Regions from separate parts of the Homo sapiens genome. Here all the other regions are reported to be linked to region 7. Evidence: microRNA targets listed by miRTarBase, many of them from high-throughput screens and not tested one by one. Region 7 holds a microRNA gene; each other region holds the end of a gene's coding sequence.

The links. Region 7 holds the annotated microRNA hsa-miR-4709-3p (UUGAAGAGGAGGUGCUCUGUAGC, at 1,784-1,806, opposite strand). A microRNA usually pairs through its seed, bases 2 to 8, with sites in the 3' UTR of a target mRNA and lowers its output. Matches are read on the target gene's strand: a 7mer-m8 pairs with bases 2 to 8, a 7mer-A1 pairs with bases 2 to 7 and ends in A, and an 8mer does both.
Region 1: the mRNA of ZNF239 is a reported target of hsa-miR-4709-3p. Seed matches in the 3' UTR shown: 8mer at 3,443-3,450.
Region 2: the mRNA of SETD7 is a reported target of hsa-miR-4709-3p. Seed matches in the 3' UTR shown: 7mer-m8 at 1,526-1,532 and 7mer-m8 at 2,843-2,849.
Region 3: the mRNA of CERS2 is a reported target of hsa-miR-4709-3p. Seed matches in the 3' UTR shown: 7mer-m8 at 1,145-1,151.
Region 4: the mRNA of LMNB1 is a reported target of hsa-miR-4709-3p. Seed matches in the 3' UTR shown: 7mer-m8 at 1,281-1,287.
Region 5: the mRNA of SLC2A4 is a reported target of hsa-miR-4709-3p. Seed matches in the 3' UTR shown: 7mer-m8 at 2,548-2,554 and 7mer-m8 at 2,313-2,319.
Region 6: the mRNA of KLHL15 is a reported target of hsa-miR-4709-3p. Seed matches in the 3' UTR shown: 7mer-A1 at 1,794-1,800.

Annotation. Positions count from the first base shown.
Region 1 is chr10:43,552,903-43,557,227 of GRCh38, forward strand. It overlaps ZNF239 (zinc finger protein 239), which reads right to left. Exons shown (of 4, transcript NM_001099282.2): 4 at 3,442-4,325. The coding sequence ends at 3,801. Among named protein-coding and RNA genes, the nearest start is that of ZNF239, 20 kb to the right of the region's middle.
Region 2 is chr4:139,507,766-139,512,090 of GRCh38, reverse strand. SETD7 (SET domain containing 7, histone lysine methyltransferase) reads left to right here. Exons shown (of 8, transcript NM_030648.4): 8 at 248-4,325. The coding sequence ends at 428. Among named protein-coding and RNA genes, the nearest start is that of SETD7, 46 kb to the left of the region's middle.
Region 3 is chr1:150,962,305-150,966,604 of GRCh38, reverse strand. CERS2 (ceramide synthase 2) reads left to right here. Exons shown (of 11, transcript NM_022075.5): 10 at 1-129; 11 at 317-1,419. The coding sequence ends at 457. It overlaps SETDB1 (SET domain bifurcated histone lysine methyltransferase 1), which reads right to left. Exons shown (of 22, transcript NM_001366418.1): 18 at 3,886-4,018; 19 at 3,466-3,631; 20 at 2,864-3,075; 21 at 2,522-2,610; 22 at 1,868-2,358. The coding sequence ends at 2,241. Among named protein-coding and RNA genes, the nearest start is that of CERS2, 10 kb to the left of the region's middle. RefSeq lists cis regulatory regions at 1,116, 1,752 and enhancers at 1,043-1,187, 1,680-1,824.
Region 4 is chr5:126,835,364-126,839,688 of GRCh38, forward strand. It overlaps LMNB1 (lamin B1), which reads left to right. Exons shown (of 11, transcript NM_005573.4): 11 at 860-1,657. The coding sequence ends at 901. Among named protein-coding and RNA genes, the nearest start is that of LMNB1, 60 kb to the left of the region's middle. RefSeq lists enhancers at 3,493-4,237, 4,238-4,325.
Region 5 is chr17:7,286,112-7,290,436 of GRCh38, reverse strand. SLC2A4 (solute carrier family 2 member 4) reads right to left here. Exons shown (of 11, transcript NM_001042.3): 11 at 2,180-4,011. The coding sequence ends at 3,808. It overlaps YBX2 (Y-box binding protein 2), which reads left to right. Exons shown (of 9, transcript NM_015982.4): 5 at 1-186; 6 at 366-469; 7 at 712-907; 8 at 1,599-1,688; 9 at 1,794-2,174. The coding sequence ends at 1,649. Among named protein-coding and RNA genes, the nearest start is that of YBX2, 6.4 kb to the left of the region's middle.
Region 6 is chrX:23,984,368-23,988,367 of GRCh38, forward strand. KLHL15 (kelch like family member 15) reads right to left here. Exons shown (of 4, transcript NM_030624.3): 4 at 1-4,000. The coding sequence ends at 3,554. Among named protein-coding and RNA genes, the nearest start is that of KLHL15, 41 kb to the right of the region's middle.
Region 7 is chr14:74,478,352-74,482,676 of GRCh38, forward strand. It overlaps MIR4709 (microRNA 4709), which reads right to left and starts at 1,853; the gene lies at 1,782-1,853. NPC2 (NPC intracellular cholesterol transporter 2) reads right to left here. Exons shown (of 5, transcript NM_006432.5): 4 at 2,351-2,428; 5 at 1,589-1,937. The coding sequence ends at 1,923. It also overlaps a transcript of SYNDIG1L not described here.

The DNA of each region.
Region 1 (4,325 bases), not on the chromosome of region 7:
CTCCATCTCAAAGAAGAAGAAGAAAAAAATCTTAAAAAATTGTTTTGACTTTGTAGGTCCTTGAGGTTTATAACTCATGCATACAGTGTATCTATTTATTTTTAGGACTTATTTACTTTTTTCTAGCATTAGTACATGTTTTGTAGCTTTAGTACAGGTCTAGTAACTTTGTCCCTACATTTCATAATTTTGATGCCGTTTTCATACTTTCAACTTTTTAAAAATATTGAGCTTGTATCCTGTGACCTTGCTAAACATACTTACTAGTTTTAAAAACATTTTCAGACACTTTATGCTTTTCCATATAGACAATCATGTCACAGCAGTCTCATGCCTTCTTTCACATTCTGTATCCCTTTTCTTTGAGACAGGGTCTCACTCTGTCGCCCAGGCTGGAGTGCAGTGGTGCGATCACAGCTCCCTGCAGCCTTGATCTCCTGGGCCTCCAGTGATCCTCCTGTTCAGCCTCCTGAGTAGGTGGCACTACAGGCACATGCCACTATGCCTGGCTAATTTTTATTTAAGTTTTGGTAGAAATGAGGTCTCACTATATTGTCCAGGTTAGTCTTGAACTCCTAAGCTCAAGCAATCTTCCCACCTTGGCCTCCCAAAAATGCCAGGATTTTAGGCATGAGCTACCACACCCAGCCTCTTTTTTATTGGCTTATTGTACTGGCTAGGACATCCACTACAAGGTTGACTGGAAGTGGTGACTAGACATCTTTCTCTTGTTTCCAATCTTAGGAGAAAAGTGCTTTTTACTTCACCAGTAAGTACGATGTCAGATGTAGGTTCTCCCATAGATGCTCTTTCTTAGATTCTTGAAACTCAATTTAATTCCTAATCAACTGAGCGGTTTTATCATGAATGGGTGTTAAATTTTTTCAAATGTTTTCCTACATTAAAAAAATTGTGGTTTTTCTTTTTAATATTAATATGAAACATTGCTTTTTGAATGTTAAAGCTTGCATTTCTAGGATAAACCCTACTTGGCCATATGTGTTTCCTTTTATAGATTGCTGTGTTCAACTTGGTATTTTAAAAAGGATTTTTACATCTATATTAAGAGATATTGATCTATGAGTTTTTCCTATGATGTCCTTTTTGGCTTTGGTATCTGGGCAATGTTGGTCTCATGACTTTTCTTTGGGGGAAGGTTATCAGCTAAAAATTCAATTTAATAGGACTATTCAAGTTCTCTCAAGTGGGCTTTGGTTCTATAGTCCTTAGGATAAAATTTTCCAATTCATTTAAGTTGCTGAATTTATTGGAATTAAGTTACTAATAAAATTCCTGTATTACCTTCTTGGTGTATAGGACCTATAGTGATATTTACTCTTTCATTCCTGATACAGGAATCCTTTCAACCCTTTCAAAGAGTTAGGTTTTGGTTCCATTAAATTTTCTCTATTGTTTGTCCACTTGTGATTTTTGTGACTTTTAGCTCTGTATCATCTCCTGTTCTACTTGCTTTGGATGATTTCTGTTCTTTTTCTCATTTCGTAAGGTGGAAGTTTAGACTATCGAATTGAAATCTTTATCTCTGATTTCACCTCTAAGCACTGCTTTAGCTACATTTCACAAATTCTGACATATTCATTCAGTTCAAAATATTTTCAAATTTTTCTTACTTTCTCTTTATTGCTCATTTAGGAGTATGTTGTTTAATTTCCAAATACTAAGAGATTGTTCAGACATCTTTGTTATTGGTCTCTTACTTAATTCTGTCCTGGTGAGAGAATATACCTTGTATGGTTTTCATTCTTTAAAAAATTTTAAGACTGTTTTATTACAGTCCATAGTAGGCACACTTGAAAAGAATGTATACAGGTTGGGCACAGTGGCTCACATATGTAATCCCAGTGCTTTGGGAGGTCCTGGAGGGAGGATTGCTTGAGCCTGTGAGTTCGAGACCAGCCTAGGCAACAGAGCTAGACTCCATCCCTACAAAAATAAAAAATAGCTGGGTGTGGTGGCACATGCCTATAGTCCTAGCTACTCTGGAGGCTGAGACAGGAGGATTGATTGAACCCAGGAATTCAAGGTTGCAATTAACTCATTGCACCACTGCACTTCAGCCTGGGTGAAAGAGTGACACACTGTCCCTAAAAAATAAAAATATATTAATATATCATGCTAATGAGTGTTCTACAAATGCCAATTAGTCAAGTTAGTTGATAGTGCTGTTCAAGGCTTATACCTCCTAAGTGACTTGTGCTATCAATTACTTATTTAACTATCTAATTATAATTGAAATTGTGCCTCTTTCAATTTTGCCAGTTTTTATTTCATGAATTTTGAAGCTCTGTTTATGTGTACTTAAGCTAGAAAGTAGCTTTGCTGTAGGATTCCCGAATTCCCATAATACAGAGGTCTTTCCCTTGGGGCCATTCAACTTCTGCAGAGAAGAAACTTCCCATTTCTTGCTGGACGTTAAACCTCTGGTCAGCCACGTACAGGAGTTGGGGAGCAGTGTGTGTTTATGTAATGAGGAGGTATGTTCCATATACAAATGGCCATTAGTTTCATTGCTTTCTCTTCACATCTCACTCCCATCTTCCAAGGTACTAAGCATTTCTGAGCCTGGTGCCAAATTGGTTCCTTCTTTTCCTTATCCCCATATGCAAGCAGCATAACTGTGCCTGCTTCTGCTCTACTGGCTATCTTTCCATCTTTCAAATTTTCATTTGCTGATAGTCTTTCTCCTATTCTCCTTATTGCTGTAGTTTGATAAATTAAATTTTCCTCGCATCTTAATGTTGTCCAATGTGATGAGACATGTTTAACAAAAGTGCATTCTCGAATACTTTCTGTGCTAGCCATTTTTAGCTTATCAAGCCCCAACATGATTTCTGCAGCCTCTAAGCTGCCCCCTGCTCCTTATGTATTCATTTTTCCAGCTCTGCCTCTGGAACCTATTTGTTATTATCACCTGCTCTCAGGTACCCCTCCTGAGTAGCTGGGTCTGCAGGTCTGTGCCAGCACACCAGCTAATTTTTGCACTTTTTTATAGAGACAAGATTTTGCCATGTTGCCCAGGCTGGTCACGAACTCCTAGGCTCAAGTGATGCACCCTCTTCAGCCTCCCAAAGTGCCAGGCATGTTACTTTGGACCCTTCCTCACATTCACTCTGGAAGTATCCCAATAAACTAGCTGTACTCACCAAAAAGGACTACTTATGTTCCTGAATAGTTGCCTGGGAGGGGCTGTTCAACTTCCTATCAAAATGGTATATGGGAATGTACTACATGAGTAACTCTCTTCCAGCTTTTTGTTGTGTGGCTACAAACTATTATATCTTTTTGCAATAAACACAATAATTTCCATGTCCATTGTATTTCCAACTGCCCTCTTGGCCTAAAATGGACGCAGTGTACAATCATAGTTTAGAGGGGGCTAATCAGGACTGGAAAGAAGTATGAAAAACACAAGGCACAAAATTTGAAGAGAAACCAGAGTTTCAATTTCTCAGAGAATGTGAACAAAGGGAAACATGCCCTGCTTGAGAATAAATATAAAGTTCTTGCCGTTAAAATGCTGGGTAGAACATGTAGTTGAATTGTAAAGTACAGACACTTTTACTCTACCCATCTGAGAAACAAGAACAATCCATTCATTGTACAGCATAACAAAGTGCTTGATACTTAAATATTTTGAATGAGTGATTTTTCAGTGAGGGAACATATCTAAATAACCCTTACATCTCTCTCCTTTGTAGAATATAAAGTAAGAGTGATACTAAATATTTAACAGTTTTTACAGTATGAGCGCTGTGAAGACCTGAATGGGCTAATGTCAGTTAGCGAGGATCTTTCTTGTGAACCCGCTGGTGGATGTGAAGGTTGGAGCTCTGGCTGAAGCCCTTCCCACACTTGCTGCACTCATAGGGCTTCTCTCCAGTATGTACTCTCTGGTGGATGAGGAGTTTGGAACTCTGGCTAAATCCCTTCCCACACTTGCCACAGTGATAGGGCTTCTCTCCAGTGTGGACTCTGAGATGGATGCGAAGATCCGAGCTCTGGCTGAAACCCTTCCCACACTCATAGCATTGGTAAGGCTTCTCTCCTGTGTGGATGCACCGGTGAATGTGAAGGTTCGAGCTCTGACTGAAGCCCTTCCCACACTCACCACACTTGTAGGGCCTCTCTCCTGTGTGTACTCGCTGGTGGATGTGCAGGTTTGAGCGCTGACTGAAGCTCATACCACACTCCTCACACTCATAGGGCTTCTCTCCAGTGTGGACTCGCTGGTGGATGTGCAGTTTGGAGCTCTGACTAAAGCCCTTCCCACACTTGTCACATTTATAAGGTTTTTCGCCTGTATG
Region 2 (4,325 bases), not on the chromosome of region 7:
CAGTGGATCGCCTGGGGGTGTCGCTAAAATGCAGATTGCAATCCAGCAGGTCTGGGATGGGGCCGAGATGCTCCATGTCTAATAAGCTCTCGGGTGAAACTGATGCTGGGTGACCACACTTTGGGCACATACCAGGTGTGCCCAGGGAAGAGTGCCTGGGGGTGATTCCTGTATCAGCCCCTCCCTAGCCTTTGCTTCCAACCTCCTGGTCTGGCCCGGGAATGACTGTGTGCATCTTGATGTTTAGGTTTGTCCACCCCCGTTTTGGGCCCATCAAATGCATCCGCACCCTGAGAGCAGTGGAGGCCGATGAAGAGCTCACCGTTGCCTATGGCTATGACCACAGCCCCCCCGGGAAGAGTGGGCCTGAAGCCCCTGAGTGGTACCAGGTGGAGCTGAAGGCCTTCCAGGCCACCCAGCAAAAGTGAAAGGCCTGGCTTTGGGGTTCAGAGACCTGGAATAGAAACTTGGATCTATGCACTACGTTTATCTGACAATGGGACAACCAGGGACTGCTCATGCTGTGACGTCACATCCTCTCACCATGCGTTAGCAACGACTTTCTCGCATACTAACTAGGTTTGACTGTATTACTCATACCAGATTTAAAATTAGCTAGCCTTGCAACAACGTCCTACTGAGAGGTATTGTCGAGCATTTGACATAAGACAGCGTGATGTTCTTTGGTGGTTCAAGTCTAAATCTGTACCACATTCGGAGATGCCAAATGATTAGACTGAAACAGGGAAACGGGGTTTTTCAGTCATTTTTAGTCAGTGGTTTTTCCATAGTGCTTTTTTCCTATGGCCAGTGCAAATTGTGTTAGCACACTTGCATATGTGCCGTATTAAGGGTTGACAATTACTACATCTTTATTCTCTAAATGTAGTATAATTTGCCTTTTAACCTTTGATCTGTATCTTGCAATAGAATGGCTTTGGTTTTTTTCTTAGTAAATAGGAGCCCACTTCTAAAGTCATTTCACCCCTCAGCCCTATTCTCTTTCTTAGATACCCTTTACAAGAGAAAACTTCCAAATGGATTTTTGCATCAATAGCAGTGTGTAGGTCTCTCTGGTTCTTTCTATATCATCATTTTATTATTATGTCCTAATATAAAGTACTGGCTCATAGGGCCAGGGTATTATTATAGAATATTATTCTCGCATGTAAACAAAGATATCTTTGCTTTAAGATGTGAGAAGAAATGAATTTACTTTGTTTGCATTAAGTTATGGAAGAGTTGTAATATATACTTTAAGAAAGAAGAGAAGAAAACTAGTATCTCTAAGCGGTAACTATGGCAATTTTGCAATATTTTCAGTAGTGCTAGTAATTTTTTCCTCCTTGAGTACACATTAAATGTACATAACATAGCGCGGTCAGGCTTGTGGCACAGTGCATTGAATTCAAAAGTCAAACAGCAAATTTGAATTCTAACAGAATTCAAAAAAAAATTTTTTTAGTCAGTACTACTAAGGCAGACACACTGATTACTAGGTACAAATCAAACCTTGATGCTAAAACTCTTCATCATTGTAATTTCAAAGCACTTACCTGCTTCAAAACATTGTAAACTAAGACTGAACACCTGTATAGTTTAAAAGCAACACTATCAATAGCATTTCAGCCATTTTGCCAGCCATGTGTAATCACAACTGCAGAAATAAGGAGAAAACCCCTGTTTTTTTAGTTTAGCTAATTAGATCTGTAACATCACTGGGATTGCTCTGAATGAATCCTGAGAGTTTTGTTTTTTATAAGCACCCTCACCACATGCCATAGCTTTGTCTCTTTTAGACACCTCGATGCAGCGGCTGGAAGGACTGGAGAGCAGCTGTTGTGCTGATCTGTAGCTGTCAGCTGTGATTCCTGTCACCTGAGTCAGTTTGGTCTGGAAAGCGAAGGCCTTCCAAGCTGTAGCAGATAGTGAGCTCCAGCTGATGAGAGAAGGCTTCAGTGGAAGAAGAGTGAGGACATAGGCAGAAGGAAGTTTGCTATTTCTTGTCAGTTGCACATTGCTTTATGAAGACTACAACAAAAGTGCTTAATCCCAGGCTGCTCATGACTTTCATTTCAGGTGGCCCTTGGGCACATTGACAGAGTTGCCCTTCCCTTCTTTGCAACACCAGGCTTCCTAGAGCACCCGGTTGCATGCTTTGCAGCTAGGTGGCAGTGGTTTCAGGGAGATCCAGTTGGATCCCTGCTTGAAAGCTTAAGCCAATGGTTCACCCATGAGAGGAAGTTGTCAGTGCTTCCAGGAAGATTGCCCACCAAAGGAACTGAATAGTTTTTAGATTTAAAGGCACCAGGATAGGGTCACTCTTACTCTGTAGAAAGAGACCGTTCTATACACTGTGACGGATGGGCCAGGGCCTCTGGACTTGCATTCTGATAGGTGCTTTAATTTAAATGTGCCCAAAGGGAGTGACTGTCTTCAGGAGAAAGATGGCTTGCATTAACCTCGATCAAGTGGGTTGTGCAGCCAGGTCAGGGAATACGGTCAGGGAGAGGATAGTGCTGGTCATGCCCCCGATGCAGCTATGCTCTGAATGATTTCATTCCTGAGAGTGATAGCATTCTGGTCCTGGCTGCAGTGGGGTACAATTTACGTCCTAAGTGGGGGCTACTCTAATTATCCCATTCAAATGGAATTTTTTTCAACATTGGATAGAAGGAATTGAAGAGTTGTAAGTAGTGATTAGTCTGCTAATCAGTTCTTCAGATGAGATATTGAATGGTAACACTCTGAGCTTAAAACTCAGCAGTGTGTCTGTGACCTCCACGCAAATCAGAGGAAGCAATGCATCCACGCTGAGCCTCACCATGTCTTCCTCCCAACTCTCTTCATACTCTCTGTGTCTTCCAGCTCTTCTTTCTCTGGCCGGCTCTCTTTCCTCTTCTCTCTGCATATGTGAGAACGCCTGGGCATCCTGGGTAACAGCAGCCCCAGCTGCCCTCTCCTGTTCCCTGTTCCAAGTCCCCTGCACTGACCTTTCTTGAGTCTCTCTGGCTCTGTGCATGTCTTTGGGACTCTGCTCATCTGGCTTTTCCTCTGTGTGTGCCTCTCTGTTTGCTTATGTCTCTGGCTCTGTCTTCCCCACCCCTCCCCTCACACACACACATACTCCCAAATGTAAGGCTCTGTGGCAGGTTGGAATCGGAGTAAGGCTTGAGATTCACTGAGTTCTGTAGGTAGGGAAAGAAGTCAAGGGAGTGGAGGTTCTATAAGGAATTAACAGCTGAGGACGGAAGGGTTTGTTTCCCGTTTGAACCTAAACGCAAGTGGAAAAGAATACTCAGAATGTATTTTTCTACTTTACATCTGCTGGGGAAGGAAATGTGTCAGGAAGCCGCTGCATCTGGTCATTTCATCGCATCAGAATCACAGCAGACGTGGAAGATTCCATGTGGTGGGGAATAAAGAAATAACTTTATGCTCTCCTGAAAAACAGCGGGAGCCTATGTGTGTGTGCGACACTGTAATCTCAAGGAGATTCACTCAGAGCTGTCTCAGTCCAACTCCTGCATGACCAGATCTTCCCTTAGCATCTTTTCTGTGATGAAATATTATCTTGTGTTAGAGTTAGGAATAGGAACTAACCTGTAGGAGCATGTCCCCAAATGGACATTTGAATGGACTAACAAAAACAACTGGAAAGACTGAATTTCCGACACAAAGGAATGATGGGATCAAAAAGAAAGCAGTGAGGAGTTCTTGAGTCTTGTAGTACCTATTCTTATTTTAACTTGCTTCATCCTTGATCTACCTGAGACACTAAGAAGGAAATTAGTTTTCCAAGAGCTCTTTGAACCTGTCTAGGACTGTAGTTAAACCTATTTGCCCTATGGGGGTTCTTCACACTCGAAAAACTATTTCCTTATCACCAACGACCCACCCAGAAAGGCCAATGAGGCCAAATGTAACAATTTTTAACATTTAAATATAACTATTAAAATTGCATTAATTGTGAACAGTGAATTAAAGGGTTGTCTTCTCCAGGAGACAGTATGTGGCACTTTTCGTAAATTTCATTTAATATATAAAAATTTAAATCACTCACTGCAACATGCATTTAAAATCTTCCAAGAAGGTAGAGGTATCATTTTCTGTTTTGCTTTGTTTTAAAACAGTTGCCTCAAGCTTCTGTCTTAAGAGTAGTGACTTAGAATCCAGATATCTTTTGTTTTAGAAAAACAAGCAAAACTATGTTGCAAGACTGACAGTTGTAATGTTTATTTGCCACAGATCAAAGGTTCACAAAGTATATCAAATTTACATCTACTTGGGGTACCTTGATAGATTATTATTGTTTTTCTTTTATC
Region 3 (4,300 bases), not on the chromosome of region 7:
CCACTGGAGCTCTATCCTGCCTTCTTTGGCTATTACTTCTTCAATTCCATGATGGGAGTTCTACAGCTGCTGCATATCTTCTGGGCCTACCTCATTTTGCGCATGGCCCACAAGTTCATAACTGGAAAGGTGAAGCCCTGTTCCCATTGTGTAGGCCTTACTACTCTCTACAACTTCCTGAACTCCCATCTTGCCAGTAACTCTCTAAAAAACTAGTGTGGAGCCCTGGGTATAACAGGAACAAGCCCTCAGAGAGAAGCAGTACTTAGGGGTTTGAGGATCTCATGTAATAACCCTTCTTGTCCCTTTTCCACAGCTGGTAGAAGATGAACGCAGTGACCGGGAAGAAACAGAGAGCTCAGAGGGGGAGGAGGCTGCAGCTGGGGGAGGAGCAAAGAGCCGGCCCCTAGCCAATGGCCACCCCATCCTCAATAACAACCATCGTAAGAATGACTGAACCATTACTCCAGCTGCCTCCCAGATTAATGCATAAAGCCAAGGAACTACCCCGCTCCCTGCGCTATAGGGTCACTTTAAGCTCTGGGGAAAAAGGAGAAAGTGAGAGGAGAGTTCTCTGCATCCTCCCTCCTTGCTTGTCACCCAGTTGCCTTTAAACCAAATTCTAACCAGCCTATCCCCAGGTAGGGGGACGTTGGTTATATTCTGTTAGAGGGGGACGGTCGTATTTTCCTCCCTACCCGCCAAGTCATCCTTTCTACTGCTTTTGAGGCCCTCCCTCAGCTCTCTGTGGGTAGGGGTTACAATTCACATTCCTTATTCTGAGAATTTGGCCCCAGCTGTTTGCCTTTGACTCCCTGACCTCCAGAGCCAGGGTTGTGCCTTATTGTCCCATCTGTGGGCCTCATTCTGCCAAAGCTGGACCAAGGCTAACCTTTCTAAGCTCCCTAACTTGGGCCAGAAACCAAAGCTGAGCTTTTAACTTTCTCCCTCTATGACACAAATGAATTGAGGGTAGGAGGAGGGTGCACATAACCCTTACCCTACCTCTGCCAAAAAGTGGGGGCTGTACTGGGGACTGCTCGGATGATCTTTCTTAGTGCTACTTCTTTCAGCTGTCCCTGTAGCGACAGGTCTAAGATCTGACTGCCTCCTCCTTTCTCTGGCCTCTTCCCCCTTCCCTCTTCTCTTCAGCTAGGCTAGCTGGTTTGGAGTAGAATGGCAACTAATTCTAATTTTTATTTATTAAATATTTGGGGTTTTGGTTTTAAAGCCAGAATTACGGCTAGCACCTAGCATTTCAGCAGAGGGACCATTTTAGACCAAAATGTACTGTTAATGGGTTTTTTTTAAAAATTAAAAGATTAAATAAAAAATATTAAATAAAACATGGCAATAAGTGTCAGACTATTAGGAATTGAGAAGGGGGATCAACTAAATAAACGAAGAGAGTCTTTCTTATGCCTTCCTTGCAGTTATGTAATATTTTCTTTTTTAAATTTCACATGCATGTAATTTGAGCACTTTGAGGGGCCAAGGAGGGTGGATCACTAGAGGTCAGGAGTTTGAGACCAGCCTGGCCAACATGGCGAAACCCCATCTCTACTAAAAATACATCTAGCTGGGTGTGGTGGCGGGCGACTGTAATCTCAGCTACTTAGGAGGCTGAGGCAGGAGAATCACCTGAACCCGGGAGGCGGAGGCTGCAGTGAGTCGAGATTGCACCATTGCACTCCAGCCTGGGTGACAGAGCGAGAACTCCATCTAAAAAAATTCACATGCAAGAAGCAAAGGTAGACAAGGTAGAAGATGAATGACAGCAGCCCACAGGGGAGGATGGGGATAATACCTCACTGAAAGATCCAGAATTGGGAGTATCGGGCTGAGAGAGAGAAACAAAACCACAATCTTAGTTTTATCATATTGTTAAAAGACTTTCAAGAAATAATACAAACTGGAGATAGTAGATACACAGGCTCCATTCTAAGAACAAAGTCTGTTAGAAGCAGGAACACTTGGACAAATATGGGATGGGAGGGATGTCAGGCCGAGGTTAGAGTGGTGATCTCTCCCCACCCTTTAGGGCCTTTGGAGGTGGAGAAGGGATCCTGCCTGCTAGCACCACATTGGAAGGGATCATCTGGTCCAGAACCCCCATTTCTATCAACTAGGAGCTGGGGGGAGTAGCTAGCCCAGAGACTTCGGGTCAGGGTTCAACAATCAGGAAGACCCAGTTCCTGAGGAAACGACAGTTCAAGAAGGGTTGGGAAGAAGGCTGTCCTCTAAAGAAGACGTCCTCTGCATTCAATGGCCCCACAGCAACAGAGTAGCTCCTTGCCTTCCACACTGCCCACCTCGTAGTTGTAGTCCCAAGTAAGTTCTGTCCCAGCCCGGATTCTTCTGAAGAGGAAGAAAAGGATGGTGTGTGGCAAAGACAGCAGATAACCCAGGCACTTGGGGTTACTGAATATGTAGGTGGAGTTGGATCATGAATGGAGGAGGGGCCCTTAGAACTTCAGTGGTCCTTGCCCCTCCCCAGTCATCCCCTTTCCTGACTCCTTACTTGCTGGCAAAGAAGGCCACCCAGGGGAAGCGAAGATCATGGGTATCCACGAAGACATTCTGGACAAACAGGTTGGGGCTGCAACTGTGCTGTAGGTTTAAGGACAGGATCAAATAAGAACCAGGGAAACTGAACCTGGCTTTGCAGGGAGAGTGAGAGTTGGAAGAAAAATGATGCCATCTGACCCTCCCCATTATAATAGATGCTTTGAAAGAAAGCTACCTCTTTAAGATCCTTTGAGATCAAGAGTTTATAACAAGAAAAGGGCTTATAGAGTATGTTAAAAGAAATCTGAGGACCATGGGATAATCCAGCATCTAGAGGTGGGGAGAGGGGTCTCACGTTGAGGTAGCGGCCCAGGTTGCCTTCAAGCTTGGCATCAATGATGTAGCAAGACTCCTCGCCATCATAGAATTGGCGTGTGTTCTTACGAACAGGTGCGCTCTCCCCCTTGTCCACAGAGGCCATGTTGGTTGATTTAATTGCAATCCCATGGGTTGATTTAAGAGCAAAGCCTCGGGTTGATTTTACTGCCACTTGACGCTTCATTGGACCTGGACAGGAGGGAGAATGGGGTCAGGACCCATCCCAACTCATGAACAGACATTCTATCATGAATGGACATTCTACCCCTATTTCTCTCCCAACATTGCAGCTGAGAAACACCAATAAGCTGGAACTCAAAGATCCTAAGTAGCAGGTTTTTTTTTCAAGCATAATTAGATCTGCTAGACAAAGGAGCTGAGGGGAAAGAGTAAAAAAATGGAAATGAGAGAGGATGTGTCAAACAATAGTTTAGCTTGGAGTCAGAAAGCCCTCCCAGAGATGCTCCAATTCTTAGGATCTGAATTTTTACCCACTACTTCTTTAGCTTCCTTAAAAAATGCTCTATCCCAAGTTTCTTACTATTTCTTCCCACCATTCCCAAAATTTTTCCAGGCTACCAGTCATGTTCTTCTTGTCCTCAAAGTCATCCCCTTCAGAGCCAGAGGATATGGTCTGGATATCATCACTGTCAACCGCTGTAGCCGAAGTCTGACCAGCAGTGGGCTTTCGGCTGGTCCCACTTTCCCCCTCACTTTCTGTGCTGCTGGACAGTGTCAGGACATCCTGGGGAAGCAGGAGGGTAAGAAGTAAGAGAAGTAAATGGGAAGGGCTCCTTTAAGTCCTTGCTGTTACCCACGGTTTGGCAGGAAAGGGCGGTGGCAAGAGGAAGATTAGATGCTGGATGAAAGAAAATAAGGCAGGAAGTCAAGGCTAAAGAAGTAGGAGAAGACCTAACAGTAATTATAGTGAAGGACTTGATGAGGTGACAATGGCCCATTTTCCTTTATTAGACTCTGAATAAGCTTGAGGTGACTTACATCAGGGTTGGACTGAGCAGAAGCCATGAGTCTTCGGCTTTGATGCATACTAGTCTTACTAGGTGGGCGGCGAAGTCCTTCAGGCTTCACAGGAGAAGGATTGTAACCGTAATTTCGAGAGCTTTCAGTAACTCTAATGGGAGGGGAAGGAATGAAGCCAACAGGTTACTGGCTGTTTCTTAGGCTTCTAGCCTAGGTTTGAGAGAAGGCAGATTTGGAGACAGGTCAAAAAGACAGGCACTGGGCTGGACACGGTAGCTCATGGCTGTAATCCCAGCACTTTGGGAGGCTGAGGATCCCCTTTGGGAGCATCGCTTGAGCCCAGGAGTTCAAGACCAGTCTGGGAAACATGGTGAAACCCCGTGTCTACAAAAAATACAAAAACTAGCCAGGCATGGTGGTGCACACCCGTAGT
Region 4 (4,325 bases), not on the chromosome of region 7:
GTGAGTCACAAGTCATATTGTGAGGTTATATGAAATTAATGAGTGATAAAGAAATGGGTAGAGGAGCCATGTTGACTTCACCTTGGAGGACAAATCCACTGCAGATGGCTTGGGATGTGTAAGTTCAGGATCTAGCAAGCTGTAGTCTCCGATGTGGTTGTTAAAAGCTGATCCACTGATCTCCTATTTCCTAAGTTATCAAAAGAGGTTATTGAACAATGGTTTTCAAATTGAGCTGCACATTAGAATTACTTTAAAATTATATATAGATAGCTACCCTTTCCCAGTAAAATGAGAAATTCTTATTTGATTGATCAAGGGACCTAGATCAGAATTTGTTTTAAACTCCTCAGGATCTGAATGTGTAGCCAGAGTTGACAATTACTGTTCTGGAATTTGTTGGGGGGTATTCTAGAAAGAAGTCCATAAAAGAAGGTTAGAGGCCAGATACGGTGGCTCACGCCTGTAATCCCAGCACTTTGGGAGGCCAAGGGCAGGTGGATCACTTGAGGCCAGGAGTTCAAGACCAGCCTGGCTAACGTGGTGGTGATGCACACCTGTAGTCGCAGCTGCTCGGGAGGCTGAGGCATGAGAATCGCTTGAACCCAGGAGGTAGAGGTTGCAGTGAGCCAAGATTGCACCACTGCACTCCAGCCTGGGCAACAGAGTGAGACTCTATCTCAAACAAACAAAGAAAAAGAAAAAAAGAAAAGGTTAGAAAAGATGAGAGATGATAAAGGGTCCATTTGAGGTTAGGTAATATGGTTTGGTATCCCTGTAGTTAAAAGTTTTTGTCTTATTTTAGAATACTGTGATCTATTTCTTTAGTATTAATTTTTCCTTCTGTTTTCCTCATCAGGGAACCCCAAGAGCATCCAATAGAAGCTGTGCAATTATGTAAAATTTTCAACTGTCTTCCTCAAAATAAAGAAGTATGGTAATCTTTACCTGTATACAGTGCAGAGCCTTCTCAGAAGCACAGAATATTTTTATATTTCCTTTATGTGAATTTTTAAGCTGCAAATCTGATGGCCTTAATTTCCTTTTTGACACTGAAAGTTTTGTAAAAGAAATCATGTCCATACACTTTGTTGCAAGATGTGAATTATTGACACTGAACTTAATAACTGTGTACTGTTCGGAAGGGGTTCCTCAAATTTTTTGACTTTTTTTGTATGTGTGTTTTTTCTTTTTTTTTAAGTTCTTATGAGGAGGGGAGGGTAAATAAACCACTGTGCGTCTTGGTGTAATTTGAAGATTGCCCCATCTAGACTAGCAATCTCTTCATTATTCTCTGCTATATATAAAACGGTGCTGTGAGGGAGGGGAAAAGCATTTTTCAATATATTGAACTTTTGTACTGAATTTTTTTGTAATAAGCAATCAAGGTTATAATTTTTTTTAAAATAGAAATTTTGTAAGAAGGCAATATTAACCTAATCACCATGTAAGCACTCTGGATGATGGATTCCACAAAACTTGGTTTTATGGTTACTTCTTCTCTTAGATTCTTAATTCATGAGGAGGGTGGGGGAGGGAGGTGGAGGGAGGGAAGGGTTTCTCTATTAAAATGCATTCGTTGTGTTTTTTAAGATAGTGTAACTTGCTTAAATTTCTTATGTGACATTAACAAATAAAAAAGCTCTTTTAATATTGATATACTGTCCTTTTTAACGCTTTAAAAACAGATTTTGAGGGGAGAAAAGTATTGTTTCAGTTTTGCTTTTGATAAAAATATAATTTGACTTCTTTGAACTGGATTTTTCTTTAAGGCTTTGCCAGTTGTGGAAGATAAGCTATTTTGGGGGTCTTTCAGTATTTAATTGTCATTAATAACAACAATAATAAAAGCAATAATAATAACTAATGTTTTTGAGCCAGATATCATGCTCAATGCTTCATTACATTTTTTAGCTTATTAACAATAAGGCCTTTTAAAATTTCTTCAGGAAAACCAAATAGGAACAGTAGAAAACATTGAGGAAGACATTCCTTTTTTTTTTTTTTTTTTTTTAAAGACAGAATCTCACTCTGTTGCCCAGGCTGTAGTGCAATGGCACGGTCTTAGCTCACTGCAGCCTTGACCTCTCCTGGGCTCTGCCTCCCAAGTAGCTGGGACTACAGGCACACACCACCATGTCCGGCTAATGTTTTTGTATTCGTAGAGAGCATTTTGTCATGTTTCCCATGCTGGACATTCCTAGTAAAAGAAAAAATGGGAAGAATATTTTAGAATGTAATTCTACTGTCTTTTAAAATAGGAAGGGCCGAGAAATTGATTAAAAGCCACCTTTTAGAAAAATAACATGAATGCTATGAAATACGAATGTGCTGTGTGTGGGGTAGCTTTATTATGTATGGTGCTAATTATGGTGTCAATTCGTGTGGATTTGGGGAGGTTTTGTCTTGATTGCTTTAGTTAAGTGAGTTCATCTTATAGGAAGTGCAATATCTGAACTCTTCCTAGAATGGACAGATAATATTTCAGAAGCTAACCCTAGTCAGTGTTTGTTTTTCTCTTAAAATATTCCTGCAGTAAGCTGCACAAAGACTACCAGCTTTCACTTGAAAATAACTCACAAAGCCCCAGAATTACTGTGTTCCGCAGATTTACTGCATACTTTGGTGCCGTCGCAGACACAAGATAAATGCTGGGTTAGAAATTCTGTCTGGTAAAGCAGATAAAATGATAACTTCTCAACGCAGATTTATCTTCAGAGTGGGAATGGCATTACAGTACACAGCCAAACTCAGCTGTGAAACATTTTGCCACAAGATGGGGTTCTTGTCATCAAAATACATTCTAGGTGCTTTTATTGCTGGATAAATTAGGTTATAAAAGCCAACACTTGAATTAATTTGGGCATTAAGAAAAATTGGCAGTTGTAACATAGTAGAATAGTGTGTATGCTGGGGAAATTGAGAGTACAAATGCAGGGCTCAACATAAACAGTTTGTTGCCCCTGGATGTGTGGCAGTAGTAGATTCCTGAGTCTGTTTAGACTGACAAACTTTGGACTAAATTGAGGTTTTCTGAAATTGAGCTGCACCTAAACCCATTCCCGCAGAATGTGAGTGAGCTAGAGGGCACGCTGCCATCCTGTGTATTAAAATCAGCATCTCCGCATGAAATTGATGTTAGGCATACAGCATATATATACATTTTTGGATTATTTATTTGATAACAAGCATGATTCACATTTTCCCCTTGTTTTGTCTTCAGTGTTTGTTTTCACCTCTGTTTAGGTATGGATTTATTTTATTATTTTATTTTATTTTATTTATTTTTTTGAGACAGAGTCTCGCTGTTGTTGCCCAGGCTGGAGTGCAATGGTGCAATCTCCGCTCACTGCAACCTCTGTCTCCCAGGTTCAAGCGATTCTCCTGCCTCAGCCTCCTGAGTAGTTGGGATTACAGGTGCACACCACCACGCCTAGATATGGATTTATTTTTATTCCTCTTGTTCAGGTCTTATCTCTGTGTTCTTCATTAAGAAAATTTTGGATGTTCTTATTTTGTTGAGTATTATCTCATCCCCACTGTCTGTTCTTTCCTTCTGGGGTTTCTTTTATACCTGTGTTGAACCTGTCCTGTTTCATGTATTTTAGGTTTCTCCACACTATATTCTCAGTTAACTCCTTCGTATTTATCTCACTGATTCTGTTCTCAGCCCTGTCTTATCTGTTTATTCCAGCCATTGAACTTTTTAGGCTTCATTTTTTTGTTTCTGAAGTTGTCTTTGATTCTTTCTCAAATTTATCTTTTTCATAATTTTTTATTATAGTTTTTATTCTTTTTATGAATCATTTTAACCATATTTTATAGTCTCAATTCTATTTTTTTGAGTTTTGGAGAATGCTAATTTTTCTGTTAGCTGTGTCTGTTGACTTTCCTAATGGTAGTTGGCTTTCTCATGGAGTTTTTAGGATTGTGAACACATCTCCAGCAAGGGCTATGTTGTGAGTGATCCGTTTCATGCGTGTCTGTGTGAAGAGACCACCAAACAGGATTTGTGTGAGCAACACGGCTGTTTATTTCACCTGGGTGCAGGCGGGCTGAGTCCGAAAAGAGAGTCAGCGAAGGGAGATAAGGGAGGGGCCGTTTTATAGGATTTGGGTAGGTAAAGGAAAATTACAGTCAAAGGGGGTTTGTTCTCTGGCGGGCAGGAGTGGGGGGTCACAAGGTGCTCAGTGGGGGTGCTTTTTGAGCTAGGAAAAGGACTTTCACAAGGTAATCTCATCACTTAAGGCAAGGGCCGGCCATTTACACTTCTTTTGTGGTGGAATGTCATCAGTTAAGGTGGGGCAGGGCATATTCACTTCTTT
Region 5 (4,325 bases), not on the chromosome of region 7:
CCTCCCTCAGTTGCCCCACCACCCATGGTGGCAGAGATCCCCTCGGCGGGGACAGGACCTGGCAGTAAAGGGGAGCGGGCTGAAGACTCTGGGCAACGGCCCCGACGATGGTGCCCCCCACCCTTCTTCTACCGACGGCGGTTTGTGCGAGGCCCCCGGCCTCCCAACCAGCAGCAGCCTATAGAGGTGAGGGGATGCTGGAATATGGGAGCCAGTTCCCCAAGTTCAGGAGAGGAGTGGGAGTTAGGATAGAGACCATGGGTCCCCAAAGAAGGAGGAACTGAGGGTTGGGCAGAGCTGTGGATAATCTGGCTCCAGAGCAGCTGCTGTCCCCACAGCTCACCGGGGCCTTTGCATGTTCCCAGGGCACTGACAGGGTAGAACCCAAAGAGACAGCCCCATTGGAGGGGCACCAACAGCAGGGAGATGAGCGAGTCCCCCCGCCCAGATTCCGGCCCAGGTACCGAAGGTAAGACCCCCCTGCTGGGGCTTGGTCTTCCCCTTCCAGTGTTGGATCCTTGGGGCAAGGGACAGGAGGATGGAAGGGTGAAGCTCTAGGCAGAGCCTGGGCTCCTGGCGAGACAGGTGCCTTGCGGGGAGGCAGTGCTCATGGGCTGGAAGCCTGGCTCCTGGAGGTGGGGTGGGGCAGCTGGGTGAGCCCTGGGGAGGGAGTATTCCCTGGTCCCCTCAGAGCCTTGTTCCTTGCCTTAGGCCTTTCCGCCCCAGGCCACGCCAGCAGCCTACCACAGAAGGTGGGGATGGTGAGACCAAGCCCAGCCAAGGTCCCGCTGATGGTTCCCGGCCTGAGCCCCAGCGCCCACGAAACCGCCCCTACTTCCAGCGGAGACGGCAGCAGGCCCCTGGCCCCCAGCAGGCCCCTGGCCCCCGGCAGCCCGCAGCCCCTGAGGTGAGGACCTCAGATGTGGGATGAAAGAAAAGGCTGAGACCAGCTCCCTCCCCCACCTGCTCCTTTTTCTTTCCTACTCTATCCTTTGGCTCCTCCCCTCCCCTGCCCTGGCCCTGCCACCACCCTCTTCCATGCAGCCTGCTGGGTCCCCCCCTGGCAGGTGCCGCCTCCCACCAGGAAGCCCCCACAGAGGCAATCAAGCCCATGATTGCCCATGATGGCCATGCCCCCCCCAACCCATCCCCCACTTGCTGCCTGGAGCCATCCTACCAGCTTGTAGATGTGAACTGAGGGGTGTGATTGAGGTTTTAATGGGAAGGGAAAAAGTGAAAGAAGGTTGAAGTTCAGGGCCCTGAAGAACAAGTCTCAGCCCTGCGCGATGTCTCATGCCTGTAATCCCAGCACTTTGGGAGGCAGAAGCAGGCAGATCAGTTGGGGTCAGGAGTTCAAGACCAGCCTGACCAACATGGAGAAACCCCGTCTCTACTAAAGATACAAAAATTAGCCAGGCGTGGTAGCACATGCCTGTAATCCCAGCTACTTGGGAGGCTAAGGCAGGAGAATCACTTGAACTGGGAGGGGGAGTTTGCAGTGAGCCAAGATCACGCCACTGTACTCCATCCAACCTGGAGTGAGACTCTGTCTCAAAAACAAAAAGAACAAGTCTCAATTGGCCACCGCTGTTCTTTAGACCTCAGCCCCTGTCAACAGTGGGGACCCCACCACCACCATCCTGGAGTGATTCCAACTCAACTCAGAGGACACCCAGAGCTGCCATCTGGTGAGTGGCTGGTGCAGTTGGGTGGGTGGCCAGGAAGGTGAGGTACTGGGTGGCGATGACAAGTCGCTGTTGTTCACAATCCGTCCATTTCCTTTTCTCTCTCAGGTATCTGCCAGTTTTTCCAAATGACCTGTACCCTACCCAGTACCCTGCTCCCCCTTTCCCATAATTCATGACATCAAAACACCAGCTTTTCACCTTTTCCTTGAGACTCAGGAGGACCAAAGCAGCAGCCTTTTGCTTTTTCTTTTTTCTTCCCTCCCCTTATCAAGGGTTGAAGGAAGGGAGCCATCCTTACTGTTCAGAGACAGCAACTCCCTCCCGTAACTCAGGCTGAGAAGGAACCAGCCAGCTCTTACCTCCTCCTGGTTGCTTTTCTTGCCCCCACCCCAAGTTTATTTTTGTTTTCCCCCGGCCCCCTACCTCTGAAGCCATTTTATGATCTGTCATGTGCCACCTGAGCCTCCAGTAAAAACAAAAACAGGCTTTCCTGTGGTCTTGGTCTCCATCTCTTCTGTTTTGGAGAATCGCTAGTAACTCACTGTTGAAGGTGGGGAGGAGGGGATGTGGGGCCGTGGGCAGGGCCTGGCATCCTTGCTGCCATGTCTCCAGCTGTGTCCCTGGTGAAGAGTGCCCCTATCATGGGTTTCACTGCCCATCTGTGACATGGGCTGACACCTCCCTCACAGAGTGAGTATTCTGCAAATGCCAAGAGCAATGCCCGGCACTGGCAGCTACAATTTATTGAGCATTTACTATTAATAAAGCAACGAGTAGAAATGTGAGTAGGGGCATGAGCAATGGCATCCAGAAGATTCTGAGGCCTTGAGCTGAGGCAGGACAGAGGGAGGAAGAGGGGTGAAGAGTTATGGTCCCTGTCTCAGCCCATCCTCAAGTACCTCCACAATAGGATGCTTGTCTTCAGCAGTGACTTTATAGAAGTATCTATATATATACATTTAGTACAACCGACCTTTGGTTTCTTCTCTCAATCCCCTTTTCAAACGTATATAAAAATATCCAAAGGCTCCTCCCAGCCCAGTGTTTCCAGGCAGCCTTTCAAATCCCCTCTTTGCCTTAGTTGGTCAAAAGCCTGTGGATGCAGCACCCTTCCAGGAAGGGAGAGGAAGAAAGTTAGGGCTCCTTCTTGGCAGCCTTGGGAAACCATCGGGGTAGAGCCCCAAGCCTAGAGGCGGGAGCCTGCCGTCCTTCCATCTTGCCACACATGGGCACATACTTTCCTGTTCCCTCTTGCCCTGGAAGGCTGAGCCTGCAGTGAGGGAGGTGAGTCCTTTTCCCTGCAGGGGTCAAGAGAGAACTCCCTTCGCCAGGCGCGGTGGCTCACGCCTGTAATCCCAGCACTTTGGGAGGCTGAGGCAGGCAGATCACGAGGTCAGGAGATCGAGACCATTCTGGCTAACATGGTGAAACCGCGTATATACTAAAAATACAAAATAAATTAGCCAGGTGTGGTGGCATGCGCCTGTAGTCCCAGCTACTCCGGAGGCTGAGGCAGGAGAATGGCGTGAACCTGGGAGACAGCTTGCAGTGAAGCAAGATCACGCCACTGCACTCGAGCCTGGGCGACAGAGCGAGACTGTCTCAAAAAAAAAAAAAAAAAAAAAAAAAAAAACCCCTTTGCCCAGAGTCTGCGTGGCAAGAATTCAGTGAAAGTCCCAGATTGTGGGAGGAGTCCAAGGTGGTGGGAAACTGGATTTCTTGTCTCCTGTCCTGCTCTCTGCTCTGGTTTGTCCCACTGAGAAAGTCTAGACCTGTCTTCCCTCCAATCCCCCTTCTCTAGCAGCGAAGAAGGTATTCTGGAGCTGAGTCTGGGGAAGGTGGGGAGGAAAGGGGATGGGGGAAGGAAGAGGGAGGGGAGAGTGGCCCACCCTGATGGCCACGGCCAAACCACAACACATAAATAATCCAAGAGAGTCACACGAGGGGAATGAGGGGGTGCTCAGACCACCCTTCCCCCAGCTTCCCAATTCTACCAGGCTGCAGGGATTCTTTTCCACCCGGAAATAATAGGGAAGAGAGGGTTAAAGTGCTGCAGAGGAAAGGAAGGGGTCTCTGGGCCGGGTAGAGAGAGCTGGCTCTCCCACCCCTGCCTGGCCCCTCAGTCGTTCTCATCTGGCCCTAAATACTCAAGTTCTGTGCTGGGTTTCACCTCCTGCTCTAAAAGAGAGGGTGTCCGGTGGAAGGCAGCTGAGATCTGGTCAAACGTCCGGCCTCGAGTTTCAGGTACTCTTAAGAAGGTGAAGATGAAGAAGCCCAGCAGGAGGACCGCAAATAGAAGGAAGACGTAGGGCCCCATAGCCTCCTGGGACAGGTGGAGAAAGAGGTGTTGACGGAGTGAGGTGGGGAGGGAAGGGGTAGTTTCAGGCAACCAGGAGCTAAAGGCCTTCATAGGGAGCTGGGGGGACGGCAGACAGCAGCTGCCTCCTCCAGGGACAAGGGAAATGAGCAGGAATGAGAATTTACACTGAAAAGAGGATTCTCTGAACCCCAAACACTCTTAGTTTTCGCCCTCTTCACCATCCTCAGTTACTGCACTCAGAGGAGAGTCCCAGCTGTTTGTAGTATTAATGCAAAGTGTATCATTTTATTCTTGGAGTAAGGTAAGTTATGCCACTG
Region 6 (4,000 bases), not on the chromosome of region 7:
ACCAACTCTAAATGTAATTGAACAAACATATGATCTCTCAAAATGTTCAGAATACAAAAACAAAAATCAAAAATGTATAACAGGCAAACAAGAAAACTGGCACTAGCAGTTTTACTGCCATATAGCCCTCAATTATATCTGATTTACACTATTATCTATGTTGCATTTTACTTCAGTCTAAAACTTTAAATTATGAATTCTCAAAAGAGCTAGTCTCCTCTGAGAGATAGCTTATAAACTGAAATAACAATTTATATTATAAACTGAAATGTTATGACCTACACCCACATATACATATATAAAAATAGTCCCACTGAACGTTTGACATGTTTAGATTATGCAGCTCAAATAATCTGTTATAAAATATTTTAAAGCTTAGTTTCATGTAATTAAGACAAAACTCCATTTTTACCACTTCTCCCCACATAAAGCGTGTGTCCTTTACTATGACTCGAGCAGGCTTCCCAGAATGAGGTGTCCAAAGGTGCTGCTTTAGAAAAGATAAGTGAAGGGCTCAGTCAGTATTTCACAAATTCTAGTAACACTCACACAGAGCAGAGTAATGAGGACACAGAAAGCTGTCTCAAGAAAAGCTAATAATTCTATTAGTTAAGCTTTGCTTTTTAAAAACCAGTAGCATTTCTTCCAACACAAAACCTTCAAAGTGAGAATCTTGCATTTTAAGAAAAGGCTGTAGTGCAAGGAATTTCTTTAAAATCAAAACTTAGAAGGTCAAAGACACGGAAGAGAACAAATGGTTCTAATTAAGATGTAATTAATGAAGATCAGCTATTTTTGTGAACTCTGGCATTTGAGATATAAAGTGAAAACAACACGCATAAAGGTCATAACAGTTAAACTGTATAGATTCAAATCTTACTGAATTTTTCAAAAAACTACTTTTTTGAGCGCAATGTATATAAACAAAAACTCCAAATGAAGCACACAAAAAATAAACTTGAAAAAAATGCTATGAAAAACTTTTCCATAGTTTAGTATAACAAAAATAAATCTCTTGCAGCAATAAAACCATAATTTTAAAAGGGAATGTAAGTTAATCATGGATTTAAAATAACCTAAATTAGAACTACATATAAACAGGGAGTTTTCTCATACATTCAGAACCCAAGCAACAGCAACTATCCTTAAAGCTCAAAACTGATTACAGCTAACATCAGGTCCGACGTGACTTACGTAAAGCTGAACCCAGAGTTAGTTCAAGTTAAGATTTTACGAATTTTACAAAACATGAACTTTGATCTTGGCCTCTGTCTTTAAAATGGAAGACCAAGAATACTCAAATGTTTGCCCAGATGTCACCCTGACTAGGGTCATGAAGTCATATCTAAGCAATTAAAGAGAACCACCACTATAGTGTAAAGGCTTTGATGTGGATACCTGGCCTGATGGCTCTTTCTTGGTCTTTTCTAGCAAAAGACATCAATGAGGAAAATAATGAAGACGTTATTTTCTTTAAAGCAAAATAGCACACATACAAAGCCACTAAACTAATGTAGAAAAAAATTAAATGGCTAACTTATTCCTAACTTTCAAAAATAAAATAATGTATTTTTTAAATGTAGAAAAAGACTTTTACCCATATTACCATGGGAAACAAGATACCAAATTTCATGTTTGGAAACTGTAAGTAAATGACAGGACTAGTTAATGAAAATATAAGTCTCATATATAAAATAAGATTATTATTGATTTTTGAAATCAATGCCAATGGTTTTTTCAAAAGCTACTTATGTACCTGGTTTCTTAAACCCAAATGCCTCCAATTCTGGAGTTTGAAGATCAGGTTTAATCTCATAGTATGTCTAATAACTGCCCAAAAAACCCCCAAAAACCAAAGTCTTCACATTTCCATGACTTCACACTTCCATTTTATGTTCAATGGTGGCAGCAGCAAAAAAACAAACAAACAAACAAAAAAACAAAAAACACCAAACAAAGTGAAACTAGAAAATTTATACATCAGCAGCCATATAGAAGGCATTGCAATATTGCACCAATATTCTAAGATCTGGCAAGTTTTGCCAGTATAGATCTAGTCTGTATCAGATATAGACTACTCATGCGCAAATGGCATCAATTTCAATGATCCACTCCCAGGTTATTCTTGCTTAACTTTGTCAACTATGTTTTTTCCTCTGCATTTAAAGAGTTGAAAGGTGCAGCTAATCCTAAAACACTTATTATAAATGCTTTTAAACAGCTATTCTTGATCCATTCTGAACTTTGTGGTTACTATCCTTCATGCTAATAGCTTTCAGTAAATAAAACAAAAACTGAGGGCTTACATCCCTAGTGTCGCTGGGTATTTTGTACAAAATAAACAAGTAGATAAAACCAGTAACATTATAATTCTATTTCTTACCTCTAAGTCAAAACTGAGGTCAAATTTTCTAAGAGTTTCTACCTTCCATTCAATAACAAATGCAGCAGCCTTACTGAATGTAAAAAATGGGAGTTGCACTTACTTTTAAGGGGCCTTGATTTAGGAGTCTGGTATTACCTAAATGCTCTTTAAAAGTGCTTGCATGCTGCAGGGCCAGAACTTGTCATATACCACTCCGATTCTCACTAAAAACAGGGTAACGTTAAACAGACTGCAAAGAAAAACATTTTCAAAAAGAAAAGACATACATCGACAAAGAACACTAACATTTACTTTTGAAAATAAAATATAAAGTGTTAGTTTTCATAACCATACATGTTTCAGAAATATAAGGAGTTCAAATATTACTGAATCAGTATGGACTGAAGATAGGCTACTTTGATAGCAAATGAGGACTCCAGTTATTTCAACTTTCTAAAAATGTTAATATGTGAAAAGACGTTACATCTAAAATTCAACAAGTATGGCGAACTGTGTGTGCAAGTAAGTGCACTAGCTTAAAAATATAGAATCCTAACCACGCATAAAAGGGATGTGCCTTGTGTATTTATAGGTTGTATGCGAGTATGAATATGCTTTCACTAACACAATGCGGATAAGAGAAGGCAGCTTAGAAATAGTGTTTTGAATATAAAAAGTTAATTTTGTAGAAAATTTATATTTTTGCATTTTCAGCAAAAAGCCATGCAAAAAGGTCAAGAGTTTTAAACTTTTAAATAATAAAACTAAAAAGTATAACAGACTGAAATACACTGAAATAAATCTTCAAAAAGGTTTCAGATAGAGACAGAGACTGAAATCACATCCAGTGACACTTATCGGGTCTTCTCTTAGAAGACACATGACTCCTACGCTAACATCTGAAAGAAATGTTTAAAGCAGAAAATCAATATCCCAGATAAGTGGAGCATTCTATTCAACTGCTTCTGGAAGTAGTTTCAAGAGCTAGCACTTAGAATTAACTTATTGCATGAGTTTGAGGCCACTGAAAAGAAAAAAAGGATGCTAGCACAGAATGAAAAATTCTTACAATGTTAGACCAATGGCTTTGATAGTAAAACTGGTGAGGTTTTTCTTTATATGTTTTAATTAATTACTCTGTGCAAACAAATACTTTGTTTGCCTCTTTTTTTAGGGAGGAGGATGTCATTAGTTGCAACGCCTGACCTCATCCAGTACATAGTCCGGAAAATGCAGGTTGCATACTTGTAAACCATCCAGCTTGCAGGGCATCCGAGGGTACTCATCTTCCTTCCACTTGTTTTCATCCGGATCAAAAGTGAGGATGGAATCGCTGTAATGACCATTATAACAAAGGCCTCCAAGAACCATTATTTGTTTGTCCAGCACAGTCACACCATGGCCACTTCTACCAATCGGCATGGATGCCAAGATGGTCCACTGATCAGTCTCTGGGTTGTATACTTCTGTAGAAGGGCATCCCTGAGATTCGAAAGAGGCCCTCAAGATCACACAGACACCACCGAAGACATAAAGCTTGCCATTGTAAGAAATCATCTTGTGAAAGCATCTCGCGTAATTCATCTTGCTCTTATTCTCCCAACAGTTGGTAACCACTTGAGTTCTCCTGGTCCG
Region 7 (4,325 bases):
AACATTGTTTCAAATTTGAAGAATAAGTGGAGGAAAGAAAAATATATTTTAGAACTTAGATATGTAAATTATTTCCAAAATAGTTTAACACTCAAACTAGTCAGCTGTATCAAAATCAATTCTCCCTGAAGTAGGCACTGTTCCTAGCTAGAGGCAAGTACTCATTTTGCATGGTATTGTGAGTCCTGTCTTCTTTTAACACAAGGGCAGAGGAGTATGCAGGGTGGGTAGCTGTTAACTTCAAAGGAGCTAAATGGCATGAGAAATCTTCTGGGAATAGGGAGACAGTGGACACATGAGAATTGAGCTTTTCCAGGCCTTTCAGAAAGTTCTTGTGCACAGAGGATAGCCTCATCCTTCTGAGGAGACATCATCAAATCTCAGATTGAACCTTCTAATTTTCCTGCTATTTGTAGACAAAGAAGAATGTCTGTCTCCCAGAGTGACAGCTAACATTTAGAGAGTATATACTATAGCCAGGGTCATTCTAAGTGTTTTACATGCCTCATCTCATTTAGTCTTCACAGCCCTATTATTATTAGTCCTATTTAACAGATAAGGAGACTGACACACAGAGAGATGAAGTGATTTCAAGATCACACTGGTAGTCCTGTTAATTGTTGGTGCCAGGATTCAACCATAGGCAGTCCGAAGCCAGAGACCCGCACAACAGTTAACAGCCTCAGGAATTCACACAATTCTGATACATCTAGAGTCTGGTATGGGAGACAAGGTGGACTGTCACTCTAGACTCAATGTGGCAGGATACACAAAAGATCTTAGGTAAAAAGTACACTGGTTGACTGGCTCCTAGCATTAACTAGGAAAGCTTGGCTGTTGATAACTGTATTCCTGATCCATCACTGTCCCCTGGTGGTTTTCCTGGGAAACTCACAGACCAAAGAAATCCAAGGGTCTAGTGAAATTAGTGGGATGAAAAGAACTGGATCAAATCAATCACTTGCTCACAAGCACTTTGTATGAATGTTCCTTCCTTTTGCCCTAACAATGGATGACCTAAGGTCCATGTTATTCAACTCAATTGTGAATGGGGTTGTAATCCCTGTACCACCTAAGAGCTGACTGCTAGTATACTGACTCAAAATAGGTGGCAAAATATATGCCCATGATTATACTTGTACTTTAAGATAGGAAACTCCAAGATTTAATTAATTTAGCCATTACTTGCTACAACTTCACATTTCATTTTTAAGCTTCTAGGCTTTCTTCACAGCAGTGTTCCCAAAAGATCACCATGCCTCATCCTAACCTGTAATCCCTAACCCCTACCTGCCCTCCCCACCAAATTCAGTTCCTTCAACCTTTCAGGCGTTATTATTCAACTAGGTGATTTTTACTTTCACTGCTTCTTTCGAGCATGCTTGGTGGTATAAGATTGTGTCAAATAAAGCAAAACAAGGCCATTTTATATAAAATAGATATGGTCTTACTGGACAAAAAGGAGGAAAAAGAGTTTCTGAAAAAGTCATGTCTTCAGTGCACTCTGGGACCACGGAACTGGGGGCCTGCCTTCCATGGTTCTAGCAGAATGTACCCTGAAAGGAGCAGGAGAAGACCACAGCCCACATGCAGAAGACAAGACAAACGAGTTTTTATTTATTCAAGAGTAAATTTCCAGGTGTAGAAAGAGGCCACAAGTTAATGTTGTTAAAAAAAAAATTAAACATCTGCTAACCAAGTGCTGCATTTAATGAAACCACCTAAGACAGAAAAAGAGACATGAGACAACCACTGAGAACCAGCCACCCGGAGCTCAGTTTCTGCTACAGAGCACCTCCTCTTCAACGAATCACTGGATACCATTGGAGAGCAAGTCACTGTTGTTGAAGCAGCAGAGCTGGAGGTGCTGTCAAGAGTCTCAGCAGACTCATTGGCCAGATGCACCGAACTCAATGAGGCACTTAGAGATGAGAAACCTGTGGATGTAATGTCCCAGCTCAGTGGAAGTGGTTTGGAACCTTTCCTCCACTGTCAGGGCAATAACCCTAGGGCAAGTTATCAGACATTCCTAAGCAACCTCCTTCAGGTCCTGTCTGGCTGGACCTTCCTTACTCCGACAGAAAAAAACCAATGAAGACAGTTAAATCAATCTCTACAGTCTCACTCTCTCTTCTTTCCTTCAACCTTTTTTTTTTTTAACAAAGGATATTACAAAGGCAACAGTTCTGAGCTCTCAGGAAATAGGGTCTCAGATGCTTTTAGAGGTTGAGAGGCATAAAACAGCAGTCTTGAAATTCCTTTTATCTTATGGCACTGATTTAGTTTCAGTCTGATTTCTCCTCCACTTTCTTCCCTCCACCCATGCCCTCTCACCCCCAGATAGACTTACGATCTGTACTGGGATTTCCCAGCAGAAGAGACTTTGGTTTTTGTCATCCTGAAGTTGCCACTCCACCACCAGTTTTATCTGGAGAAAGAGAAAAATAATTGAGAAAAATGAAAATAGGACCTGACTTCTATCCATAATTGGTTTAACTATGAATCCTAGATGTACAGTAGCAAACTTCCTAACTCCTCATACTTTTTTTCTTAAATCATGAGGGCTGCTTAGCATGTGGGCACAGCTTACAGCCTTAAGAGAGTGAACAAAGTTATACTTGTGATTTGATGCTAGCAGCACCACATACTAACTTGGTTAATTTATCAAATGTAATTTCTAAAGCATTCTCTTCTCTCTTAGATCAATGGCATATAAATGAAGTGATACGGTTTGGTTATTTGTCCCTTTGAAATTTCATGTTGACATGTGACCTCCAATGTTGGAGGTGGGCCTGGTGGGAAGTATTGGATCATGGAGGAAGATCCCTCATGAACGGCTTAGCACCGTCCCCTTGGTGATGAGTGAGTTCTCACTGACTTCACATGAGATCTGGCTGTTTAAAAGAGTCTGGGGCCTCCCCCTTCTCTTTCTTGCTTTAGTGCTGGCCATGTGACACGCTGGCTCCCCTTTGCCTTCTGTCCTAACAGTAAGCTTCCTGAAGCCTCACCAGAAGCAGGTGGTGGCACTATGCTTCAGGTACAGCTTGCTGAACCGTGAGCTGATCAAACCTCTTTTCAAGTTACCCAGTCTTAGGTATTCCTTTACAACAAGGCAAATGGACTAACACATGAAGGCTTACATGAATAATTTCACATTTAAGCAATTTCTCATGTATTTGGCAATCTGATCCAGCTTTTTCCCAATGTAACCATGAAGAGCAGAGAGTAAAAAAAATTTAGATTCTTAGGTATAAGGAAACGTTCTTGTTAGCTAGAAATGGAAATGTCAAAGCACAAAAGATGGCCTAGAGAAGTCTGTAGCTGTATGAATAATTTCAAGGATGACAACCTTTTGTAGCAATATACTTTCAGTTAACGCCCTTAAACTGCTTTCTAATAATGTACTTCATCAGAAATCCCTGCCTTGACTTGTTACACTCATATCACGTGAGTGGTCCCTTCCAATTCTTGATAACTCACTGACACTCTGCAGGTCCTTTCTTATGTGGACATTAGCTTACTTGTCACTAGTTACTACCTCTCTTTTGTACTCTAATGTTTCTTCACAATGGAACATGTGAGTGGCACTGATATTCAGGTTCTTGAAACTTGCCTTGTGAGTTTTTCCAGACTAGTATACATTAACTACTGCTTCATTTAGTGCTTAAGCAGTTTGAGCTATTTTTCAAATTAAATGTAACTCATTTAACAGACAATAACTACCATACATTAAGTACCTACTACGTATCAGGCTCTGACTAGTCACTGCATACGTAACTGAGGTTCAGACATGCCCATGGTTATGTGGATATTCATCTACTAATCTGTCCCTGACCTCTAAGGTCTCCAACAGCCCTTAAGCACAGACATCCTATATTTGAGTCTCTTTAGAATGTTCTTTAATTACTTACCTTTCCTAGAAAATAAATGGCCAGATATTGCTCCTGAGTTCTACTTGATTTCAAGAAATGCGGCTCTTTTTCTTCATGGAAAAAGGCCATCCCTCTATTTCCTCCATTCTTATCAAGATACATATCTTTAATACAGGTCCACTGCAGCAGGATCTACCTTATGAGTGCTTGGTAGAAAAAGAGGTAGGTGCAGCAGGGATGGGTCAGAGGTGAAGGTGGGGATTGGAGGGCAGAAAGAAGGCTGGAAAAAGCTACCTCTCTGCCATGGAGCTAACAAACTACTGCTCTCTTGTTTTGTTAAGAGATTAATGGAGAAACCAGGATTTTCTGATGACAATGTTAAGACAACTTGGATCTTTAATTATTTGGTACCTGGCTAAAATCTTTTAACATTGCACAGGCTTTGGAGTTATA